2 separate regions of the Homo sapiens genome follow, and region 1 is linked to region 2. A link means that fine-mapping ties the variant in region 2 to the expression of a gene that starts in the linked region. Tissue or cell type: whole blood. Region 2 holds a variant in brackets; the other region holds the start of a gene. All regions are shown on one strand. Distances are from middle to middle. Region 1 holds the start of UBE2O (ubiquitin conjugating enzyme E2 O). Region 2 overlaps UBE2O (ubiquitin conjugating enzyme E2 O).

Region 1 (12,198 bases), 26 kb after region 2:
GGCACACAGTAACAGTATCCTGGATCATGACTGCTCTTATTACCTTAAAATATAAAGCAATACTCTATCATCTTTGTAATTTATAATCTCATTACCAGTCTTGAGAATTTCAAGAGACCTTTCAGACTCTGGAAACATACATACATACATACAGATTCATTCCATCCCCCTCCTGGAGGACGGCCGGGGTTACTTTAAATGTGCATTACTGAATTTCTCACAAAGTAACAGAGGTAGGAAGTTCATGAGTATTTCTAGAAGAGGTTTAATAAAGTCAAACCTATAATCCATCTGGTCACTAGCAACACGAGCCATTAGGAATTCCTATGCCCCTGAAACAACCACCTTCCCCACAACCCGCCTCGTGCACCTTTTGCTTCCCAAGGTGCCTCTTTGGTGCAGCATCACCCTCTTTCTCATGGAAGTGATCTTCTGAAGGCACAGGGCTGGCTCTCTCTGACAGACATCAGAATGCTGTCTGCTAATAACCAAGTGGCCATCCTAGGCTTGACCCAGCTACACTTCTGGTTATTCCATCCGAGCAGGATCATATCGGGGTTAGGAAGATAGACCTCTTATTTCATTGCAGAGGGAGAAAATGAGGCAGTGACTTGGTCAAGGTCATTCAGAGTAGGTGACAGCCAGGAAGAGCACCCAAGGGTTTTGGCTTCCAATCACAGTACAAAACACACACCCTTCATCTGGGGAAAGTACCCTTGAGTCAGGCAGCAGCCAGACAGAAGCACCATCAGGGCACTGAGGCCCGAGGGCTAGAAGGGGAAAAATCAAGGGACAAAGAATAAAATCACAGAACAGCTGTTAAGAGTCTACAAGTGCTGTGATCCTATCTGAATAAAACGCAATTTAGATTCACTTAGTCCTGCATCTTGGTTAACCTTATATAACTTCTTCACATTACATCACTAAGAACAATTGCTTTTAATGGGCCCAGCACCCAGACAAGTGAGACAAACTTCACGTGCCATGATGCTACACCTAAATAGCTTTCCCCATGGAAATGCTGGCCAGCGTAGGAGCCAAAAATAAACTGCAAAGCCAATTCCCGAGGGACCTGTCATCAGGGATGTTTCACACACACAGCTTCATAAAAGCAGGGTGATCACAGACAGCCCTAATTTAGAGGCACTATATCTCAAACCTGGTGAAACCCTGAATGTCATGGCAACTTAAAACAAAAGACAATGCAAAAGAGATGAAAAAGCACAAGAAAGCTAAAGCATAAACGCTTTGCCTCCGAAACGAAGGCTGAACTTGAACTGACAGACAGCAGTCCTGCTCCCTTACCTCGCAGGGGGCTGTTCTGCCCAACCATGACAGGTGGAGACCAGAAGGACCCACCACGTCTAGCCAGTGCTCATGAAGGTTTAAGTGGCTGCTGGCATTTGGCTTTGTTACAAAATTTTATTCAAAGGATGACTGGTGATGGGGAAGGGGCAAGCCTCCTCTAAGGAGATCCATGGCCAGATGGACAGTTTCAAGTGGCTACCTCGCTGAACAGGTCAGAAGACTGGAGAAAGGAAGAAGCATATAAGAGACACTGGCCACTAGCTCCTTTTGAGTCCTTAAGAGGCTTAATTTTGGTGGCTGGAAGCCTCAGGAACACGACAAATTCCATAGCTTCATGGAAGAACTTACTTTGTTTCTGTTGCTATTTTCATGAAGGCAGCAGGGAAAGGACATGACTTGCTGCCCAGTCTCTTCATCTCTCTTTGTAAATTTGTTCACTAAAAACTTGAGACTAAGATTAAGCCTTTACTCATTGCCCTCCAATTTACAGAGAAAACTACAAAAATACGCCACACCCTATGAAACACTCCACATTAAATAGATACTACTAAAAAATTTCAATGGGGCAAGGCACTGTGGCTTATGCCTGTAATTCCAGCACTTGGGGAGGCCAAGGCCGGTGAATCACTTGAGGCCAGAAGTTCAAGACCAGCCTGGCCAAAATGGCAAACTGCCGTCTCTACTAAAAATACAAAAATTAGCTGGGTGTGATGGCGCATGCCCATAATCCCAGCTATGCGGGAGGCTGAGGCACAAGAATCACTTGAACCCGGGAAGTTGAGGTTGTAATGAGCTGAGATCGTGCCACTGCACTCCAGCCTGGGTGACAGAGAGAGACTCTGTTTAAAAAAGAAACTCACACACAAAAATTTTCAATAGGTAGCAGCTTATTAAAAAAAATAAGTTTCGGGCGGGTGCGGTGGCTCCTGCCTGTAATCCCAGCACTTTGGGAGGCCGAGGCGGGCGGATCACCTGAGGTCAGGAGTTCAAGAACAGCCTGGCCACCACGGAGAAACCCCGTCTCCACTAAAAATACAAAAAATTAGCCGGGCGTGATGGCGTATGCCTGTAATCCCAGCTACTCGGGAGGCTGAGGTAGGAGAATCGCTTGAACCCGGGAGGCAGAGGTTGCGGTGAGCCGAGCTGGCGCCATTGCACTCCAGCCTGGGCAACAAGAGCAAAACTCCGTCTCAAAAACATAAATAAATAAAAAATAAGTTTCTCAAAACCATCACTACTGTAGTCCCAGCTACCTGGGAGGCTGAGGCAGGAGGATTGTGTGAGACCAGGAATTCAAGGACACCTGAGTAACAGTGAGACCCCATCCCAAAAATAATAAACAAACCAGTAACTCAAAAAAAAAAAAAAATCTGCCACTACATTATTTTGTCAATAATTGGGTTCTCAAATCTCATAACTAGATTAGTCAATCTTGGTCTAATGGTCTTTCCTTTACGGCATACTATCACCTTGATGGAATTCATAAGGAGCAGGAGGTGAGAAGAAAAATCATCCTAAGCCACAGTTCTGCAAGGTCCCAGGACCCACCCTACCACCCTGCTTGGTGGTCAGTAACAGACCAGGAGACATTCAGCTAATCAGTCACCTGTATCTATAGCTCATGGTAACAGAGCTACCTATCAGGTATAAACTCCACCCTCCAAAACAAACCTATTCTAAATCCTAAAAGAACTATATCTTGCCACCCATAAATGGGCATCCCATTCCACCACTTCCTTGGAATTTCTGCGTCCCTTGGCTTTTGCTAAACCCAGATGCTACAATGACAAAATACCACCACCGAGCCACAAAACGGATTTCAACAAATTCAAAGCAAGTCACAGGAGGCCAGCTGCAAAATCTATCCAAAGTGGTGCCTCAAAGTTGTTGTTTTTTTTTTCTTTTCTTTTGAGACAGAGTTTAACTCTTGCTGCCCAGGTTGGAGTGCAATGGTGCCATCTCAGCTCACCGCAACCTCCGCCTCCCTGGTTCAAGCAATTCTCCCGCCTCAGCCTCCCGAGTAGCTCAGGTTACAGGCATGCGCCACCAAGCCCAGCTAATTTTGTATTTTTAGTAGAGACAGGGTTTCTCCATGTTGGTCAGGCTGGTCTCGAACTCCTGACCTCAGGTGATCCGCCCGCCTCGGCCTCCCAAGTGCTGGGATTACAGGCATGAGCTACCACACCCGGCCGTTGTTTTCGATTTAACTCCAAAATAGGTATTTCAAGTCAAACTCTGTATAATTACACATAGTGCAGGAGGCAAACGGAGCATAACTGCAAACAAAGTTAACCACCAAAGTCAAGACGGACGGGAACAACAACTGATAAACATAGCGGCTCCCAGTAGTGAGCTGGGCCTACCTCCCTGAGTCCTAGGGCAGGAGGCCACAACACAGAGGATGCTGCAGTCAAATGAGTTGCGTTCCAAAAATCACGAATCTCTCAAATAGATGGGTGGTGAAAAACATTCTTAAAAACTCACAGAAAGACACCAGCAATCATCTGGTGTCACACAGTATACAGCAATAACCCTCTTTTACTGACACAATACTGGGTAATTTTTAACAAGCATTCTGTTGCACAAAAGTAATATTTTCCAAATACTCTTGTAAATGGACTGATAATTTTCCTTCCAAGTCTCAGAGCTGTTGCCTGATTCACATTTCTCTGAGGGGAAGCAGGGTCCTGTGTGTGGATTTGTGTCTGTGGATGTATGTGCATCCCCAACAAAAAGACCCCGCTGGTATCAGCAGTCACTTCTGCCTCTAGGAAATGGATCATGTGCTCTTCTCTGGAGTGGGGCCTTTTTCCTTCTCAAGCCGTTGTCACAGACCCCGCTTTGTAGTTTGACATGAAACCCCGTTCCTCTGTAGTCTTTGTCTCCCACTGTGTGAGAAACCCAGATCAACTTCCAAAGTGCCCTCCCCTGAAATCAGACCTCTCAACCTCCCAAGGACCTAAAACAGCGTAGGCCTGATTCCTGCTTAGAAATGTTTTCTTGAAGGGGAGGGGAAGTAGGAGAGAAAGAAGGGGTGTGAGATACAGGGGGGTGTGTGTGTGTGTGTGTGTGTGTCAATTACTGATAGGAATTCACATTCTGGAAAACAAGCCACCAAACCAACCCGGGTTCAAGGTTTCGGGTTTATGATGACAAGCCTCTTTGTTTTGTAAAACTGCTATACTCACTAGCATCACCCCAAAAACCATACGGGAGTCAGATGTCTGCTTAACAGCTTCAGGTCAAGAAAAAACCTTCGGGTTTCCAAATTGGTGACTCCCCTCTACCCAGGGTTCTGGATTATTTTTTTCAAGGAGTCCATATGCACTTAGGAGTCATCAATCCCGGTCGCAGCTGTCAGAATCCTCCCCCCCAAGTACTATTCATACCGGGGCTCTGATTGCTAATGATTTTACTCACAAAGTTCCCTGCAGCAATTAAAAGGAGGCAGCAGGGTAAAACAAAAAGAGGCTGGGTGGCTTCACCATAATGCAGCCTGTAAGCTAGTGAACTTCTTGGGTTCGGCTGGGATTTTCACCTCTATCTTTGTTTTGGAATGCCCACAACCCCTCCCTGCACGGACCCGGCACGGCCTTCATTTCTGGATGCACAATGCAGTACCGAGCTCCTTGGGGGTCAGCAAAACGCCGCACTGGTGTAACGCCGAACGCGCCCCAGAACCTGAGTCCCCACGGGAGTCGGTCCACGTCTCTAAATCTCGAGGCCGACACCACAGCATAACATGTCTTAGAAGTCCCCTCAAGTCGGGAAGCCCAGGGCCCGCCCGGTCCCGGGCCAGCAGTGCCTGGCTGGCGTGTGCGCCCAGAGCTGCTGCAATGACTTTGCATGGAGTGTACCCTCCACTGGGGCTGTCCTCCCGCGTCGGCCACTGCAGTGGCACCGCTCCGGGCAGGGCCCTGCACGCCGTCCTTCCCTGGCCTCGGCCCGGCCGCCGACCCCCTGCCGCCCGCGCCGCCCAGCCCCCGCCCGCCGCACCTTGGTCTCCTTCACATGCTGCTTGACGCCCTCCGGGTACCACTGGACGCGCACGTAGCCGCGGCGCAGGGGGCTGGCCCGGCCCTCCTCGTGGCCCGCGCCCCCGGCCTCGGAGCACCCCGAGCTCCCGCGGCCCTCCTCCTCGCCCTCCGAGTCCGAGTCCTCGCCGTGGATGAGGCGCACCAGCCCGAAGTGCACGGAGCCACGGTAACGGCCCGACACCAGGTCGTGAGAAAACAGCAGGCGCTGCGAGCCGGCTTCTGGGCCGGAGTCCGAGGACGGCCCGGAGGCCGAGTCCGAGGCGGGCGCCGGCGCCGGGACGGGGGCTGCGGCTGGGGCCGGGACTGCCTCCGGGGCTGGAGCCGGGGCCTGGGCTGGAGCGGGAGCTGCGGGCGTGGGGGCTGCGGGATCCGCCATAACTGCTCTGCGCGAGTCTCGGGCGGCGGCGGCGACAGCGGCGGCGAACGAGGCGCGGGGAGGCGGGACCAGCGGGCGCCGGGGGCGGGGCCATAGCGCGCTGACGTGTCCCTGCGTGGCGCCGTCGTCAGGGAGCCGGGATGCAGTTGCTAGGAGCCACCGCCTCGTCGCTAGGGGACGCTGAAGATGCCGCGGGGGGCGGGGGCAGGATGGAATCCACTAAGAAGGGGCGAGACCAGTGAGGATTCAACTAAAGGGAGCGAGAAGGGGCGGGGACCCGGGAGGAGGAAGTGGAGTGGCCACCGAGGAAGAGGGGAGTGGTCGGGGTGGGGCACAGGATGGTGGAGAGACTGTCAACAACTTTTAATGAGCTCCCTTGGCGTCCTAGCCTAGCCCCCAGGCACTGGGAGCATTGCAGAAAGAGAAAGATACTGTCCCTGTCCTCTAGGTGTTTCCAGTCTAGTTGGGGAGACAAAACAAATACACATTAAATAGATAACAAACAACTCCAACTTGTAAGGCTATAATAGATACGTGTAGAGCATATGTATAATGCACTGTATTCAGGAATTCCAAGCAGTTCGAACGTCATGACCCCTCAGAAGTTGACCCAGAAGCTGGTGAAGGAGGCCCAGAGAAAGGTAACAAAAGGATCAGTGGTCCCAGTGGTTTGGCTACAAATCCATGCAGATAAATTCAAAGCTCCCTGAAGCCAAGAATGAATGGCAAGAGGTAGTATAGTAAGGTAGCTAAGAGTGGGGACCACGGATTCCAATTTTTGGCACTGCCACTTACTAATCTATAAAAATAGGCACACTGATTAACTTATTTTCATCTTAATTTGCTCATCTGTGAAATAGGGATGATAATAGCAATACTCATCTCATTGGGCAATTGGAGGATTAAGTGAAGTAGAACAGTGCCTGGCATTTAGCTCCTTCGATAAGCTTAACCATTGTTGTACTATTTCCAAACTCCCTGCCTAGACTAAATTCCAGACTGGCAGAACTGTTATGGTCTGCTCCATATTGTCATTTTAAAATATAAAAAGTAGGCCGGGCGCGGCAGCTCACACCTGTCATCCCAGTACTTTGGGAGGCTGAGGTGGGCGGATCACGAGGTCAAGAGATTGAGACCATCCTGGCCAACATGGCGAAACCCCATCTCTACTAAAAATACGGAAAAAAAAAAAAAATAGCTGGGCGTGGTGGCACATGGCTGTAGTCCCAGCTACTCAGGAGGCTGAGGCAGGCAAATCGCTTGAACCTGGGAGGCTGAGGTTGCAGTGAGCCCAGATCGCGCCACTGCACTCCACCCTGGGCAACAGAGCAAGACTCTGTCTCAAAAAAATAAATAAATAAAAATAAATAAAATATAAAAAGTAACTCTAGGGCCAGGCGTGGTGGCTCATGCCTGTAATCCCAGCACTTTGGGAGGCAGAAGCAGATGGATCACCTGATCACCTGAGGTCAGGAGTTCAAGACCGCCCTGGCCAACATGGCGAAATCCCTTCTCTACTAAAAGTACAAAAATTAGCTGGGCGTGGTGGTGTGCACCTGTAGTCCCAGCTACTTGGGAGGCTGAGGCAGGAGAATTGCTTGAATCTGGGAGGCAGAAGTTGCAGTGAGCCGAGATCATGCCACTACACTCCAGCCTTGGCAACAGAGCAGGACTCTGTCTCAAAAAACAAAAAACAAAAAAAAGGCTGGATGTGGTGGCTCTTGCCTGTAATCCCAGCACTTTGGGAGACCGAGGCGGGTGGGAGACCCGAGGTCAGGAGTTCAAGACCAGCCTGGCCAAGATGGTGAAACCCTGTCTCTACTAAAAATACAAAAATTAGCCGGGCGCGGTGGCAGCCGCCTGTAATCCCAGCTACTCGGAAGGCTGAGGCAGGAGAATCACTTGAACCTGGGGAGTGGAGGTTGTAGTGAGCCTAGATCGCGCCGCTGCACTCCAGCCTGGGCGACAGAGTGAGATTCCGTCTCAAAAAAAAGTAACTCTAGGCCGGGCACAGTGGCTCACGCCTGAAATCCCAACACTTTGACTGCGCCTGAAATCCCAACACTTTGGGATGCCAAGGTGGGTGGATCAGTTGAGGTCAGGAGTTCAAAACTAGCCTGGCCAACATGGCAAAACCCCATGTCTACTAAAAATCCAAAATTAGCTGGGCAAGGTGGCAGGCGCCTGTAATTCCAGCTACTTGGGAGGCTGAGACACGAGAACCACTTGAACCTGGGGGTTGGAGGTTGCAGTGAGCCTAGATCACACCACTGCACTCCAGCTTGGGTGACAGAGTGAGACTCTATCTCAAAAGAAAAAAACTAACTCTAATTTAATGTGTCACCTAAGTTTCAAAGGGTTTAGATACATTCTCAGAGGACAGATTTAAATGGATTGTTAAGGAAAACAAGATCTGGCCCTAACCTTTCTCAGTCAACATCATTTTTTCCACATTTTTCTACACGATCATCAACGAAAGACTAGTAAGTTGGATATTACAGTATTTAGGTTCTTCAAAGAAGGCAGAATCCCAGCTCTTTGTGTTGTTTACAGGATCCTGAAGATACAGAACTATGTTCATAGAAAAGTTGGTTGGGTGTGGTGGCTCACATCTGTAATCCCAGCACTTTGGGAGGCCAAGGCAGATGGATCATTTGAAGTCAGGAGTTCAAGAGCACCCTGGCCAACATGGTGAAACCCCGTCTCTGCTAAAAACACAAAATTAGCCAGGTGTAGTGGCGCATGCTTGTAGTCCCAGCTACTCGGGAGGCTGATGCAGGAGAATCGCTTGAACCCGGGAGCAGGAGGTTACAGTGAGCCAAGAACACATCACTGCACTCCAGCCTGGGCGACAGAGCGAGACTGCGTCTCAAAAAAAGAGAGAGAAAAGTTAAAAGAACATGCACAAGGTCGGGCACGGTGGCTCACGCCTGTAATCCCAGCACTTTGGGAGGCTGAGGCAGGCGGATCACTTGAGGTGAGGAGTTCAAGACCAGCCTAACCAACATGGAGAAACCCCATCTCTACTAAAAATACAAAATTAGCCAGGCATGGTAGCCCATGCCTGTAATCCCAGCTACTCAGGAGGCTGAGGCAGGAGAATCACTTGAACCCGGGAGGTGGAGGTTGTGGTGAGCCAAGATCGAGCCATTGAACTCCAGCATGGGCAACAAGAGCAAAACTCCATCTCAGGAAAAAAAAAAAAAAAAAGAACATGCACAAAACAGATGGCAGCCTAAGTACTTAAGATGTCTTAGGCCAAGTACTAATAGAGTATTGATGTAATATTGGGATCAGGGTGGTTGTCAATGGACCCAAATCTTAGAAAATTTATCTACTAAGATATAGAACAAATGGGCTGAATCAGCTGAAGGGGGAGTTAGGATATGATTTTGGGGCAAGGCTGGGTTCTCAAACCATGGCCTTCCCATCCCAGAACACAATGCCAAATGACCATCTGGAATCACTGCTGTAAGGACGCAGGTCCCTACTCCCTCTCCTGTAGAGACCTGGGAGATTAAACAGCAGTAACATAGTAGCTTCTGTTCTGCCTCCCATGACCCTTTCAGCCCTGTTTTCTTGCCCCCTGATAACATAGCATTTATTAAGCACATATTATTGACCAGGCATTGTACCAGGTACTTCCAAGCACATTATCTTGTCTGTTATCACAATCTTGGATATAGAGAGTTTTTAACCTCATTTTACCAATGAAGAAATAGGGCCCAAGGAATTTGGCGCCTAAGGTAACAGGTAGTAACCTGAGGAGTTTCCCCACTCTAAGGGCAGGGGCTTTTGTAGTTATGCTATTTCTTTAGGCTTCCCTCAGAAGAACTCCTGATTGCACAGGGGAGTCCATGTGTCTATGTGTCCCACGGCGGGATAAGGCAGTGCAGACCTCAAATCTGCTTTTTGTTTCATGGCAGGGTCTCACTCTGTCGCCCATGCTGGAGTGCAGTAGCGTGATCTTGACTCACTGCAACCTCCGTCTCCCAGGTTCCAGCGATTCTCCTGCCTCAGCCTCCTGAGTAGCTGGGATTACAGGCGCCCACCACCACGGCTGGCTAATTTTTGTATTTTTAGTAGAGACGGGGTTTACCATGTTGGCCAGGCTGGTCTCGAACTCCTGACCTCAAATGATCCACCCGCCTTGCCCTCCCAAAGTGTTGGGATTACAGGCATAAGCCACCGCACCCGGCCTCAAATCTGCTTTTGTTGTCAAAAAATCAAGTGAGTTTTGCATTGTACTCCAGAGTATGCCTATGTTTGTTGTTTTAATGTAAAAACTAATGCCCTTTCCTCCCTAATCATTGAGTAATATCGGCACTCCTGGAAGACGTGTTGTGTTTATTCTGCGGCTTCTTGTAATAATGGCTAATAATAGCTATCACTTATTGAGCTGTAACTTCATGCCAGATACTCTACTAAGTGCTTTACATAGATTATCAGGATACTGCCAGGTTGGAGGTAAGACTCCTTGATTTTACATGCTGATCTCTCCCTCACTAGACTAAACCCTTAAGCATGTGGACCATGTTGTATTTGTGTGTGTAACCCTGGTGCCTAGGACAGTACCTGGCATAGGGATGGAGCTCAATAATGTGTCGTATTAGGCTAGGCCCATACAGTGGCTCACGCCTGTAATCCCAGCATTTTGGGAGGCCAAGGTGGGTGGATCACCTGAGGTCAGGAGCTTGAGACCTGGCCAACATGGCAAAACCATATCTCTACTAAATATACAAAAATTAGCCAGGCTTGGTGGCGGGCGCCTGAAATCCCAGCTACTCAGGAGGCTGAGGCTGGAGAATCACTTGAACCCGGGAGGCGGAGGCTGCAGTGAGCTGAGATTGTGCCACTGCACTTCAGCCTGGGAGATAGAGCAAGACTCCGTCTTGAAAAAGAAAAAAAGAAAATTATCATGTTAGCGGATATCAAAGGCCTGAGAACCTGTACCTCCATTCTGTCAGTTTCCTATCCTTTTTCCAACAACCAAAAGTTGAAGAAGCTGGGACAGAGCTGCCCTCTTTGGCTGCTCCAAATCCTTTCAAGTGCCCCCAGTTTCAACTGCATCTGAGCTGCTTTAGAGAATGAGACTCAGTAAATTCCTACCCATCCGATGGTGTCTTTTATGGACCTCACTCAGACCCAAGATGCTCTGGATAAGGTTTGAGGCTTGACTCCTTCCCAGACCCTGAGCCCCCAGCCACGGTCTCCATACACTCAGGCTGGCTAGCAGGGTAAGTGTGGATGGAAGCCGCTGCTTAGTTTTTATTTTTGTCATTGTTGAGGTGTAGGAAGGAGGAAAAAAACTTGATTCCCTAATGAAGAAACCCTCTCTTATCATGGCCCCATCTCCCAGCCTTTCGTGGGGAATAGAGCTATTTCTTGGGAGGATTTCACTTATTTATAAATGTGCTTCCAGAAACTGAGCTGGTCTGGCCTCTCCCCTTGCTAAGTGGGGTGGGTGGTGTGCAGGAGGCGGCAGAGCCAGCAGCAGAGTGAACTGGTCTCAGGGAAGCAGGCCCTGTCTCGTCCCTATCTTAACCAGCCACTGGAGCACCTCTCTGGACCCACAAAGTATGCTCAGGCCCAACACTGCCCTCTGCGGGAGCCTGCTTGGCCTCTCCATTGCTGTGCAAGCGATTTCAGCCTGGCCCAAAGAGCTCCTTCCACCCTGGAGCAGGTGTTTGGGAAGGCTAGGGTGCCTTAGGCACTGGGGACTTCAGCTGGGGGGTGGGGTGGGAGGTGAGCTGCCTTGGGAAACCCCCCACACCCTCATGTGGCTGGCTGAAGAAATGCCTCCGAGGCTCCAGCTGAATGCCGCTCAAGGCTTTTGGAGTTAAAACGGCCCTTCTCATTCCTGGAGCCTCACCTGCTCCTTGCACAGGTGCCCTGGGAAAACTGTGGGACTTGCCCAAGGTCACTCTGCAGTACAGTCAGGATCAGGACCCAGCCCAGCTGGCCCTTGGCCATTCTGACTCCTGCTGTGAGGGTGGGTTGCAATCCACTGGGCAAAACACTTTATGCTGGGGCAACAGTGAAAAGTTTGAGCAATAGTGACAGCATAGGATCACCAGGTTCGTCCTGTTTCCCTCCTTCCTGAAGATACAGGGTGAGGCACAGTGAATCTGCTGGACCAGCTTCAAGAACAATATGTCAGCCTATCCACTGCCACCTCCCACAGCTCCAGACTCGTGGGTGCTTCCTGGATGTGACCAGCCATAGGTACAAAGTAGACTCATCATCTTTTCCTCAAATAGTTTCTTCTCCCAGAGTTCTCATCCTGATGGATGGCAGTATCACTTACCTGGGTACTGAGCTGGCCACCTGAGGGTCAGCCCTCACTCTTAAGCTCTACATGCAATCAAAGCCTGGGTCTTGGCCCCTCACTGCCTTTTCACACCCTTCCTGTCCAGAGCTGCCCCACCAGGGGGGCAGATCCATGGAGATGTGGGGAGGTGGGAGGTACAGTGGCTG
Region 2 (12,198 bases):
TTAGTAGAGATGGGGTTTCTCCATGTTGGTCAGGCTGGTCTTGAACTTCCGACCTCAGGTGATCCGCCCACCTTGGCCTCCCAAGGTGCTAGGATTACAGGCGTGAGCCACCACGCCCGGCCCTGAGTGACTATTTTCTATTTTCCCAGGGATGGAGTAATTAGCACCATTTGAGATCCATTACAACTGGTAACTGATGCCTTGGGACTGCTGGCTGAGAAGGGCTTGTGGCCTTTCTTTCATGGAGTAAATGCCACGTGCTTCCCATTTCTCCCATCCTGGCTGGCTCTATTTCCCTCAGTCACTGGGTCCCAGGAGGAAGTCAACAAGTCGCTGGCCAGGAGTCTGGAAAAGACAAGATGACGCCACCAGACTGCATCTGAGGACCCATCCCCTCTCCAATGGATCTGCATCCAGAGTGCTCAAGGACCACAAATCCCAGGTGGAGGAAAATGGGAAGATGGAGATGTCTCAAAGGATCTGCTGTGTCCTTCCTTTAAGGGACAACCAAGCCACAGGAGGGTCAGGCAGGCCTGTGGTGATGTTTTTGAGACCTCTATGTGTGATAAGTAATGGGACGTGTGCTAAGTAACCCCAAAATGCTAGTTCTCGTGGCCTCTCTCTCCGGCTTTTCCTCAATGGCTCCCAACTATTTCAGTCACTCCACTCATTCACAGCCTGAGTGGTCCTGAAAGGGAAGATGATGTGTGGAAGCACGACCTAAATGAACAACACGGGGAGAGGGCATGGGCAAAGGGCGGCTCACTTTAACCTGGCTTTTCCCAGGCTGAGCTCAAGTCCCATCTCTCCTCCAGCAAGGGCTTGACACAGACACAACCTGCTCTGTCATAAGGTCTGGGCACCCAGTGGCCTCTTCCTCCCGTTCATCATATGCTGTAGACCATCCATTCAGTTGTTCCCTCGCCCATTCAGCAAACTGAATAACCACTGGGTGGGCAGACGCTGTGCCAGATGCCAATGAAACATCTGGAACACGAGACAGTCCTGCAGGTGTCCGAGCAGGACGGAGGTTCCATCTGCAATGAAGCCGAGGCACGCCAGGCTTGGGGAGGTGTGGCCACCACAGGGAACAGCCATGGCTCAAATGTTCCCCCAGATAGCTGCACCCAAGTTTCTGCTCAGATGTCACCTCCTCAGAAGGGCTTCTCTGGCCACCCTGTCTGGAATTGCTCCTCCTCATTCTCTATCCACCTGCTTTATTTTTCTTCACAGCACTTACTGTTCCCACACCTGCAGTCTGTGTGCCCCATGGGGGTTAGAATGTGAACCACACAAGGGCAGGCACTGGGCACCAGTGCACCCCAGCAAGTGCCTGGAACACAGAAGGGTGCCTCTGAGGAGTCACTAGAGACAGCTGAAGGAAAAGCCATGGGAATTGGGAACAAGTGTCAAGAAAGGAGTGGCTAGCAATGCCTGATGCTGCTGAGAGATCCAGTGCCACGGGGAAGTGTCCCTGCTGACCTGGGCTCAGCAGTCCCAATGGGTGGCGTGGGCAGAATCCCCAATGGCGGGGCCTGGAGAACATCTGGCAATGCAGGAAACAGGAATCACAGCATGGAGCTCATTCAGGAACTACGGCTGAAGAGCAGGAAAAGGAGGAAGAGGTAGGTGAGGGGGTGGATGTGGGCTGAGGAAGGGTCTCTTTTCAAGACATTAAAAATGGGGTCAAGCTGGGCACGGTGGTACGCACCTGGAGCCCCAGCTACTCAAGAGGCTGAGGTGGGAGGATTGCTTAAGCCCAGGAATTCGACGCTGCAGTGAGCCCTGATTGTGCCAATGCACTCCAGCCTGGGTGACAAGAGTAAGACCCTATCTCTAAAAAATAAATACAGTAAAAATAAAAATGAGGGCCCGGCGTGGTGGCTCATGCCTGTAATCCCAGCACTTCGGGAGGCCGAGGTGGGAGGATCATGAGGTCAGAAGATCAAGACCATCCTGGCTAACATGGTGAAACCCAGTCTCTACTAAAAATACAAAAAATTAGCCAGGCATGGTGGCACGTACCTATAGTCCCAGCTACTTGGGGGGCTGAGGCAGGAAAATCGCTTGAACCTGGGAGGCGGAGCTTGCAGTGAGCCGAGATCACAACACTGCACTCCAGCCTGGGTGACAGAGGGACACTCCATCTCAAAATAAATAAATAAATAAATAAATAAATAAATAAAAAATAAGGTCAGGCAGGAAGCTGCCAAGGGAGAGCCTGAAGATTCAGGCCCAGGACATAATTGATAGAGGTGGCCTACGGCACAGTGTCCGCAAAGGAACCAGAACACAGGAGAGGAGACTTCCTCTCTTCACACCAGGTGGCTCTCAGCTACTTCCAGGTTGGGTTCTTTTTTTTTTTTTTTTTTTTTTTGAGACGGAGTCTCGCTCTGTCACCCAGGCTGTAGTGCTAGTGCAGCGGCGCGATCTTGGCTCACTGCAAGCTCCACCTCCCAAGTTCACGCCGTTCTCCTGCCTCAGCCTCCTGAGTAGCTGGGACTACAGGCCCCCGCCACCATGCCCAGCTAATTTTTTTGTATTTTTAGTAGAGACGGGGTTTCACCATGTTAGCCAGGATGGTCTCGATCTCCTGACCTTGTGATCCGTCCGTCTCGGCCTCCCAAAGTGCTGGGATTACAGGCGTGAGCCACCGCGCCCGGCCTTTTTTTTTTTTTTTTTTGAGACAGAATTTAACTTTTGTTGCCCAGCCTGGAGTGCAATGGCACAACCTAGGCTCACTGCAACCTCTGTCTCCCAGGTTCAAGCGATTCTCCTGTCTCAGCCTCCCCAGTAGCTGGGATTACAAGTGTGAGCCACCACACTCTGCTAATTTTTTGTATTTTTGTAGAGACAGGGTTTCACCATATTGGCCAGGCTGGTCTCGAACTCCTGACCTCACGTGATTCGCCCACCTCAGCCTCCCAAAGTGCTGGGATTACAGGCGTGAACCACCGTGCCCAGCCCACTAGTATTTTTTATATTCGTTACATTCTGAAATGGTATCTTGGATATATACTGAGTTAAATAAAACATTAAAATTAATTTCTGGCTGAGTGAGGTGGCTCATGTCTGTAATTCCAGCACTTTGGGAAGCCAAGGTGGGAGGATTGCTTGAGGCCAGGAGTTCAAGACCAGCCTGGGCAACAGAGTAAGACCCTATCTCTACATAAAAAAATGGCAGCAGGATCCCTTAAGCCAGGTGTTTGAGGTTACAATGAGCTATGATCGAGCCACTGCACTCCAGCCCGGGCAACAGAGCAAGACTCCATCCACCTCTACCTCCAAAATTAATTTCACCTGTTTCTTTTTTTTTTTTTATTTTTTATTTTTTTTTTTTGAGACAGAGTCTCGCCCTCACCCTGTCACCCAGGCTGGAGTGCAGTGGCGCGATCTCAGCTCACTGCAAGCTCCGCCTCCCAGGTTCATGCCATTCTCCTGCCTCAGCCTCCCGAGTAGCTGGGACTACAGGCACCCGCCACCACGCCCAGCTAACTTTTTTGTATTTTTAGTAGAGACGGGATTTGACCATGTTAGCCAGGATGGTCTCGATCTCCTGACCTCGTGATCCACCCGTCTGGGCCTCCTGAAGTGCTGGGATTACAGGCGTGAGCCACCGCACCCGGTTCACCTGTTTCTTTTAATGTTTTTAAAATGTGGTCACTTCTCAAGGTCCTTTCGACAAAAAAAAAAAAAAAAAAAAAAAAAGTAAAAGAAAAAAATGTGGTCACTAAAAAATTTTAAAGGACCTACTTGGCTCATATTGTATTTTTTTAAATAATAGTTTAGCTTAATTGTATCAAAACAATGCATGCCTAAGTTAAAAAAAAAACATAGTACTAAAAGGCTTAACAAAAACAGGCAGTCCCCCATCTTACCCTCTCAACTGTGCTCTTTTGAAGCAAATACTTTTTAATTTTTTAGCTGTTTGAATATTTACCTCCATACATATAAACAACATGCTTGCACCCTAATTCCTAACTTATTATAGACATTATCTATTGACGTCCTGTTTTGGTACCTGATGACCTAACTCTTACCCTCCCCTCTGAAGCCCTTTGCCTGTACTCCATCCTTTCAACAGTTCCACTGCATTAATTGAAAAATCTAAATGTGTTATGATGGAGGACAGAGCTCACAGCTGAACCAAGTGGTGTTCCGTGTCCTCACACAACTATGTACATATTGATACTTTTGTCAAATACCTATCCATAACTTTTCTAAATATCTTCAAATTACCTACAAATTATCGATCAGGTATCTTTGGGCTTTGTGTCTTTTTCTTGTCGATCTCTCTCCCTCCTGCAGAATTCCATCCTGTCTCTCTAACTCAGACTTTCCTCTGCCGCTCACCTGTGTCAGATCCCGTTTCCTGGATCCTGGGAAAAGTCCCTGGTTTTGGTGAAGAACAACTCCTTCTATCTCCTCCCCACAAGAGGTTCACAGGAGGCACTTTTTTTCCAGCCCTTACATGCCTAAAAGGAGGGTCTCACTCTGTCACCTAGGCTGGAGTGTAGTGGTGTGATCATGGTTCACTGCAGCCTCAACCTCCTGGGCTCAAATGATCCTCTTACTTCAGCCTCCTGAGTAGCTGGGACTACAGATGCACAACACCACACTTGGCTAATTTTTGTATTTTTTTGTAGAGACAGGGTTTTGCCATGTTTCCCAGGCTGGTCTCGAACGGGGCTCAAGCGATCCTCCTGTCTTGGCTTCCCAAAGTGCTGGGATTACAGGCGTGAACCACCATGCCCAGCCAAAAGAACTTTTTTCTACTCTACTTGACGTAGTTGGGCTGGATACGGAATTCTCTCAGAATGTTGCAGGATTTGCTCTGCTGTCTTCCAGTCTGAGTACCTGTCTTAACTGGCACATATAATTGTTTACTTTCATTGTGATCCATGTGGATTTATTTCTACTACCTTTAGGGCTTTCTGGCTACCATATTTTTTCTTTGCTCTCTTTCTTTTAGACAAATGACCTAGTTTTAAAATTCCATATTTTTACCCTCTGTGAGTTTGAAAGCTTTAAACACTATTTCTATTCTTTTGGTGGTTACCCTTAAAATTGGAACATGTCTACTTGACTCAGAAAGTTTGAAGTCAATCAATATCCCTCCTACACTTCCCAAACAGTTCAAAGAACTTAAGAGTGTGTTCATTCAAATCACCCCCTCACTGATTTCCATTTTTTGTTGGGACTTTGGTTTTTAATCCTCTCCAAATTAGTGACGATCACTTTCAGAAGCGAATGCTTATTCAGATTTACCTGCACTTCCCAACGCCTCTGGATACCATTACTGTCCGCATTTCTCCTTTCTCCTTACTTCCTTCTTCCCGAAGTACAGCGAAGGTCTCTTAGTAAATACAACTTTTTTTTTTTTCTGTGAAAATGTCCTTATTTGTTCCCATTATTGAACGATAATTTAAGCTGGTTGCTGAAAACTAAGCCAACAACTGATTTTCCTTAGCACACTGAAGATTTTACTTCCTTATGGCCTCTACTGTTGCTACTTGGCATTTCCTGAGTTTCACTGTTGAACCTGGGGAGTAATCTGCCTTTCTTCTCAAGCTGCCTTTAGGATGCTATTTTTCCCACTGGGCCCTCATACCACCATCCATGTTTGTAATGTCTCTTCCTCACAAGCATCTCTTTTATCTCTGCAGAATTCTAACTAACTTCTGCAGATCTGTTTTCCAGTTCCCATAGTTCTCTCTTGAGAATTTATGCTATTTGCTGTTTAACATTTCCACTGGGGTTTTAACTCAATGTTTTCACTCTAGAGGCTTTATTTGATTCTTTAAAAAATAATCCCTTTTAAGATGTATTCTGTCTTATTCTTTCCTTTGACATCTATTTCTTCTTTTAGCCCTTCAATCACTTTAGACATTTCTATTATAATCTCTTCTATTATTTGAATTCTCATGTTGAGAATCTTGTGTTTGTTGTGATCGCTGACTCATGTTCTAATTTCTACATGCTTGGTAATTTCCTAGAACAAGCTCATCATCTGTGGGCATCCTAGGATTCCAAAAGGCCTGTACTGTGCAAGGGTCACTCTAGAAAAGTTCTGCCTTTGTTCTGCAAGCAAGAAGCTTCAGGGGTATCGCCAGTCTGCTGGCTGGTCTGGTGCCAGCTCGGGCATTCCTGCAACATGTAGATGTTATAAACACAGACTTAGAACTTGGATGTTTTCCACTGTTCACAGAAGACTTCCTCCAACACAATCCAGAGTGTGGGGCAATGATCAGCTCCCTTGACATTTCTCTGATCCCATGGGGGAAATTTTCTTGCATCCCTTTTACCTGGGAATGGCTCTTTTGAGGGGATTTCTGTTTCAACTCCATGCTTCACGTGTTCATGCAAATCCAAACCTCTATTATTGTTAGGGTCGATTTCAGGGTCCAATGAACCCACCTTGCCCCTCCCCAGAGCTGCCTACTCTGCTCTGGCTTTATATTCCTGCTTTGCTTTCGGTTCTCTGTTTTTCTTTCTTATTCTGTTGTTATAGCTTATATAGCATTTTAAGTGATTGTAATGGGAGCGGTTCTAACTTTAGCTCAAGCTACCATGTCACTGAAACAGGAAATCCACCCCATTGTCTTCTGGCTTCCAATGAGGTTGAAAAATCCAATCCATCTTCATTCCCAGTCTTTTGTATGTGACCC[G/A]TTTTTGCTCTTCGGAAGCTTTATGCCCAGTGCTCTGGAATCACACAATGTGCCACAGGACATTTTCCATTTACCATTTTTGAAACTTATGACTGTCCATTCTGAAATAATTCTTGTTTCTCTGATACATTATGGTCCTTAATTTTCCCTTTCTCTCTTTATAGACTTCCTAGATGTCAGACGTTTTTAATCTGTTTCCTGGGAGCCTTCGTCAACTTCAAAGAAAAAGTAATGGTTTTAATTTCCGAGAACTCTTTCTTGTTCTGATTTTTATAGTAACTTTTTATTTCATGGATAAAATATTGGCTCTTCTTTCTGAGTATATTTGCCATGTGCTTTAAGGCTTTCTCCTACCTGAATCAGCTCTGATTCCTCGGAGATACATTTTTCTCTTTGCTTTCTCTGGCCTCTACCTTCCATACTGGAAGCTTTCTGAACATATCCAGTTATTCTTGGCATCCATTCCTATTTAAAAGTGAGGCAATAAGAGATCTTTGTGGTGATGGAAGAGTTGTGTATCTTGACTGCTGTTACATGTGGTTACATGAATCCACAGATGTGATAAAGGGTGTGAAACTGTATGCACATATTGTGTACCCATGTCAATTCCCTGATTTTCATATTGTCTGTGATTATATAAGACATGACCATCAAGGGAAACTGCATGAAGGGTAGAGGGGACCCCTCTACTATTTTTTTTTTTTTTTTTGAGATGGAGTCTTGCTCTGTCGCCCAGGCTGGAGTGCAGTGGCATGATCTTGGTTCACTGCAACCTCTGCCTCCTGGGTTCAAGCAATTCTCCTGCCTCAGCCTCCCGAGTAGCTGGGATTACGGGCGCATGCCACCATGCCCGGCTAATTTTTGTATTTTTAGTAGAGACGGGGTTTAACCATGTTGGCCAGGCTGGTCTCGAACTCCTGACCTCGTGATCTGCCCGCCTCGGCCTCCCAAAGTGCTGGGATTACAGGCATGAGCCACCGCGTCCAGCCAGCCCTCTACTATGTTTGCAACTTCCTATGCATCTATAATTATTTCAAAATAAAAAGTTGGGCTGGGGATGGTGGCTCATGCCTGTGATCCCAGCACTTTGTGAGGCTGAGGTGGGCAGATCACTTGAGCTCAGGAGTTTGAAACCTGCCTAGGCAACATGGCAAAACCCCATCTTGACAAAAAACACACAAATTAGCCAGGAGTGGTGGCGCATGGCTGTAATCCCAGCTACTTGGGAGGCTGAGGTGGGAGAAGTGCTTCAGCCTGGGAGGCAGAGGTTGCAGTGAGCCAAGATTACACCACTGTACTCCAGCCTGGGTGACAGAGTGAGACTCTGTCTCAAAAAAAAAAAAAAAAAAAAAAAGTTAAAAAAGTTGAGGTGATAAAAAGATGATAGAAACCCTGTGAACATAAGCAAGGCTCTGGACAGGTGAGGACCACATTAGATGGAGTAGAAAGCTGGCCACTGCTGTGAGGAGCCACTACATACTGGCAATGGCAGGTCTTGTTGCTGACATGCTCATTTTTTCCAGACTGGAATCCAATGCCATGCCTCATGCCTGGCCTCAGCACTCCAGGAGCAGGCAGGGGCATGGCTGGGATTTGCTCTTTTAGTGTGCAGACGTTCATGAATCCCTCTTTCAGTCCAGCGTTACCCTGCCCCTTGCTCTGCCCAAGGTACCTCAATCTGGTGCATAAGCCTCTGCTCTCTCACTCGCCAGCAAAGGGGATTGAGTATTTTCTGGTTTGCAGAATTCAAAGAGATGACTTGGGAAGTTTCATCCCTCCCTATACAGACTGTCAACTAATCATAATCCCTCTGCTTTTAGGCCCAAACCTTATTCCCACCTTGAGTGCCACCAATTGCCTCCAATTCCTGATGCTTTCTAAAGTGCTTTTCCTTGGTGTTTTTCCGCAGGTACCAACATTTCAGCCTCTGCTCTGCTCAGTCTTCTGTTTGCCTTCCACCTTCTAGAAATTGGAGATCTTTTGTTATTGTTTTCTCTCCCATTCTGTGTCCTTGTGGGTTTATACATCTAAAAACAATTATTTTGCTGTTATTTTAGCAGAGTTTCTAGGGGAAGTAGATTTAAATGAATATGTTCAATCTACCATGTTTACCTAAAGTATGCTAACCGAAGATTTTTTTTTTCAATTTGAGAGCAGGTACTATTTATTAACTGACCAGATTAGAAAAATAATCACGGTAGACACCGCAGTTCATTCTTCTAAGAAGCCTGTGGATCTGGCCCTCCCTGTTGGCAGCAGCTCCATTTTCTACAAAATGGGTGGTCTTTTTCTTCATTCCACTTTGTGGAGAGGATAACTTGAAGGGCCACAGTATAGAGCTCATGAATCAGATCCTCGATGCAGATGATGCCATATTGACCATGAGACTGATCAATCAAAGTGTTATCTGTCAAAGCAATTCGCTTCTTATTGATTTTGCCACGGCCATGCTTGTAGATGAGTTTATTTACTGATTTCAGATTTGGGTTCCCCTTGTAATACATGGTTTCACAATCCTCAGCATGTTAACTGAAGGTCTGCTGAACTTCACAAAGGTTCCATTAAAGATCTGACAAAGGCAAAGAAGCTGCAACATCTTTTGGCCCTTTGGGCTCACACCACTGATACCTCTGACCCTGATGACAAATGCCAATTCGGGTTCTGCAGGCACAAAAAAGTTGCCAGCTTTTCTTGCCATCCTAGCCTTTCAAATTTCAGTTCTGTACATCTGCCTAGATTCCTTGTGGTAGTGCTTCACTTCTTCGTGCATAAGTTTCCTCCCTGCCTTTTGAAGCATCTTTTGGGCAAACTTCTTATTCAGGTGCTTGATCTTTAGTTCTGTGAAATTCCTTTGCTTTTTCCCAAGGGTTTCTGGCACAACAGGAAGCTGCTGCTTCTCTTCGACACCCTCCATGGTTCCAGCCAAAAAAGAGGCAACCGGAGGTTTTTAATCTTTGTTTTGCAAAGTACTTATATACAACTAGATCTGAAGATGAAGGAGAAGTAATAAGTCAACAAAAGCCGGCCACGGTGGCTCATGCCTGTAATCCCAGCACTTTGGGAGGCTGAGGTGGGTAGATCACTTGCAGTCAGGAGCTCAAGAGCAGCCTGGCCAACATGGTGAAATCCCGCCTCTACTAAAGATACAAAAAAAAATTAGCTGGGCGTGCTGGTGCACGCCTGTAATCCCAGCTACTTGGGAGGCTGAGGCAGGAGAATTGCTTGAATCCGGGAGGCACAGGTTGCAGTGAGCCGAGATCGCACTCCAGCCTGGGCGACAGGGTGCTCTGTCTCAAAAAAAAAGTCAACAAAACCCAGGAAATCACAAATTCAAAAATTAGCCATCCTTAGTTCAGACATTCACCTACTCACCAATTCATTTTGATGGACTCTCCTCATGTTGCTATTCTGAGATGTGAAATAGTGGGTAGGGAAAAGAAAGACTATTAGGGCCAGACACTGTGGCTCACACCTGTAATCCCAGGAGCTGGGAAGCCCAGCGGGGGGGACTGCTTGAAACCAGGAGTTTGGGACCAGCCTGGGCCAAGACTCCATCTCTATGAAAAAGTAAAATTAAGAATAAAAAATTTTAAAAAGAACAGCTCCATTAGAAACTCCCCCAGACACCTGAAAGGGCCACACATCCGCTCCTACAAATGGCTTTTTGTTTCAAATGTTAAAGAAAGTTTAAGTCCCATGGATTGCTGTGATCTAACCATGACAGTCAGAACTGATCCAGGCTTAGGGTGGAAGACACTCCCTGTCAGTGTCACGCAGCAGGCATGGATAAATCCACACTTTACACACTCACAAAATTAGATTAGATTCTTAAAAGGCTAAACTAAAAACAATCACTGAGAAAGTCACCAAACATAAATAGCAGCACATGTGCCCCTCAGCAGACAGCCACACAGCATGGAGAATCTGTGAGGCAGCAGCAGCCAAGAGCCTTTGGAAACTCAAGGCCCCCTATCGCCAGGCACACACACCCGACACTCTCATGCACATTTCGGCACAACCATGTCTTAGACCCGTCAAACTGCTACGGAAAGGACTCAGTTATCAAAGTATGTTCCTGTCAATCCACAAATATTTCATCATCCCACTGTGTAAGAAGTACTATAATTGTACTATGAGAGAGACTCAAAAGAAATAGATTGTATGGTCTCCGCCTTAGAAAGACTTATACCCAGCATGCCACGGTACATGTGACTGGTAAATATTTGAAAGCTTGCCCACTGTCCAAGAAAACCTATTTAGCAACCCCTTTCTCATCCTAGGATGCTTGTGGAGCCCCAGATTTAAAACAATTACATCTGTGTTCCTGGAAAGACTTAGGACTTAAAGCCCTTTCAGTTTCTAAGGGTCTTAAGCATACTGAAATAGGAAAGGGGGTTAAATCCCAACATAATGCAAAATGGCTAGCACAGATCCCAATGACACTGACAGGCACCTGCCACAAGAGGTAGCCCACCTGCGAGACTCCATGGGAGAGAGGGAAGATCCAAATGCAGGGTGTAATAAGCAGACCAACAGAAAACTCAGTTCAAAAATAAGCACAGGACTTATTTGAATAAACATTTATCTAAAGAAGATATACACATGGCCAATAAGCACATGAAAAGATGCTCAGCATCACTCATCACTAGGAATGCATGCCAAATCACAATGCAATACCCATGCATGCCCACTAGGATGGCTATAAACAAAGTGACAGTCACAAGCATTGGTGAGCATGTGGAGAAACTGGAACCCACCAACATTGCTGGTGGGTATGTAAAATGGTGCAGTTGCTTCAGAAAGCAGTTTGGCAGTTGCTCAAAATGCTAAACATAGATTTACCTACCATACGACCCAACAACTCCTCTCCTGGGTATAATATCCAAGAGAATTGAAAATATACATTCACACAAAAACGTGGACTTGAATGCTTATAGCAGCATTATTCAGAATAGCCAAAAGGTGAAAATGACACAACAACAAATGTCCATCAACTAATGAATGGATACACAAAATGTGATCTATCCATATGATAGAATATTATTCAACAATAAAAACAAATGAAGTACTGATACATGCTACAACATGGATGAACCTTGAAAACATCACGTTAAATAAATCAGTCACGAAGGCCACATCTAGTATGCTTCCATTTATATGAAATGTCCAAAATAGGCAAACCCACAGAGACAGAACATGGCTTCCAGGAGTTGGGAGGGGTGCAGGGAAATATGGTATGACTCCTAATGGGTATGAGGTTTCTTTTTAGGGTGATGAAAATGTTCTAAAATTAGATAGCGGTGATGACCGTACAACCGTTTGAGTATACTAAAAACCACTTGAACTGCACACTTTAAAAGGGTGAATTTTATGGTATGTGAATTGTCTCAATAAACCTTTTTTTTTTTAAGAGATGGGGTCTCGATCGCTTGAACCCAGGAGGTGGAGTGAGTATTGCGCCACTGCATTCCAGCCTGGGTGACAGAGCGAGACTCCATCTCAGAAAAAAAAAAAAGAGAGAGAGAGATGG

The links. PIP is the estimated chance that this variant, and not a neighbour inherited with it, causes the effect.
Region 1: it holds the start of UBE2O, and the variant in region 2 is fine-mapped to the expression of UBE2O in whole blood (TOPMed, PIP 0.98).

The regions. Positions count from the first base shown.
Region 1 is chr17:76,447,421-76,459,618 of GRCh38, forward strand. UBE2O (ubiquitin conjugating enzyme E2 O) reads right to left here and starts at 5,732. Exons shown (of 18, transcript NM_022066.4): 1 at 5,305-5,732. The coding sequence starts at 5,721. It also overlaps a transcript of AANAT not described here. RefSeq lists silencers at 5,084-5,283, 5,404-5,943, 5,738-5,906 and an enhancer at 11,199-11,278.
Region 2 is chr17:76,421,543-76,433,740 of GRCh38, forward strand. All of the region lies in intron 1 of UBE2O (ubiquitin conjugating enzyme E2 O), which reads right to left. It also overlaps the pseudogene RPL7P49. Among named protein-coding and RNA genes, the nearest start is that of UBE2O, 26 kb to the right of the region's middle. RefSeq lists enhancers at 993-1,494, 1,495-1,994. The variant G/A (reference allele first, on the strand shown) is at 6,669.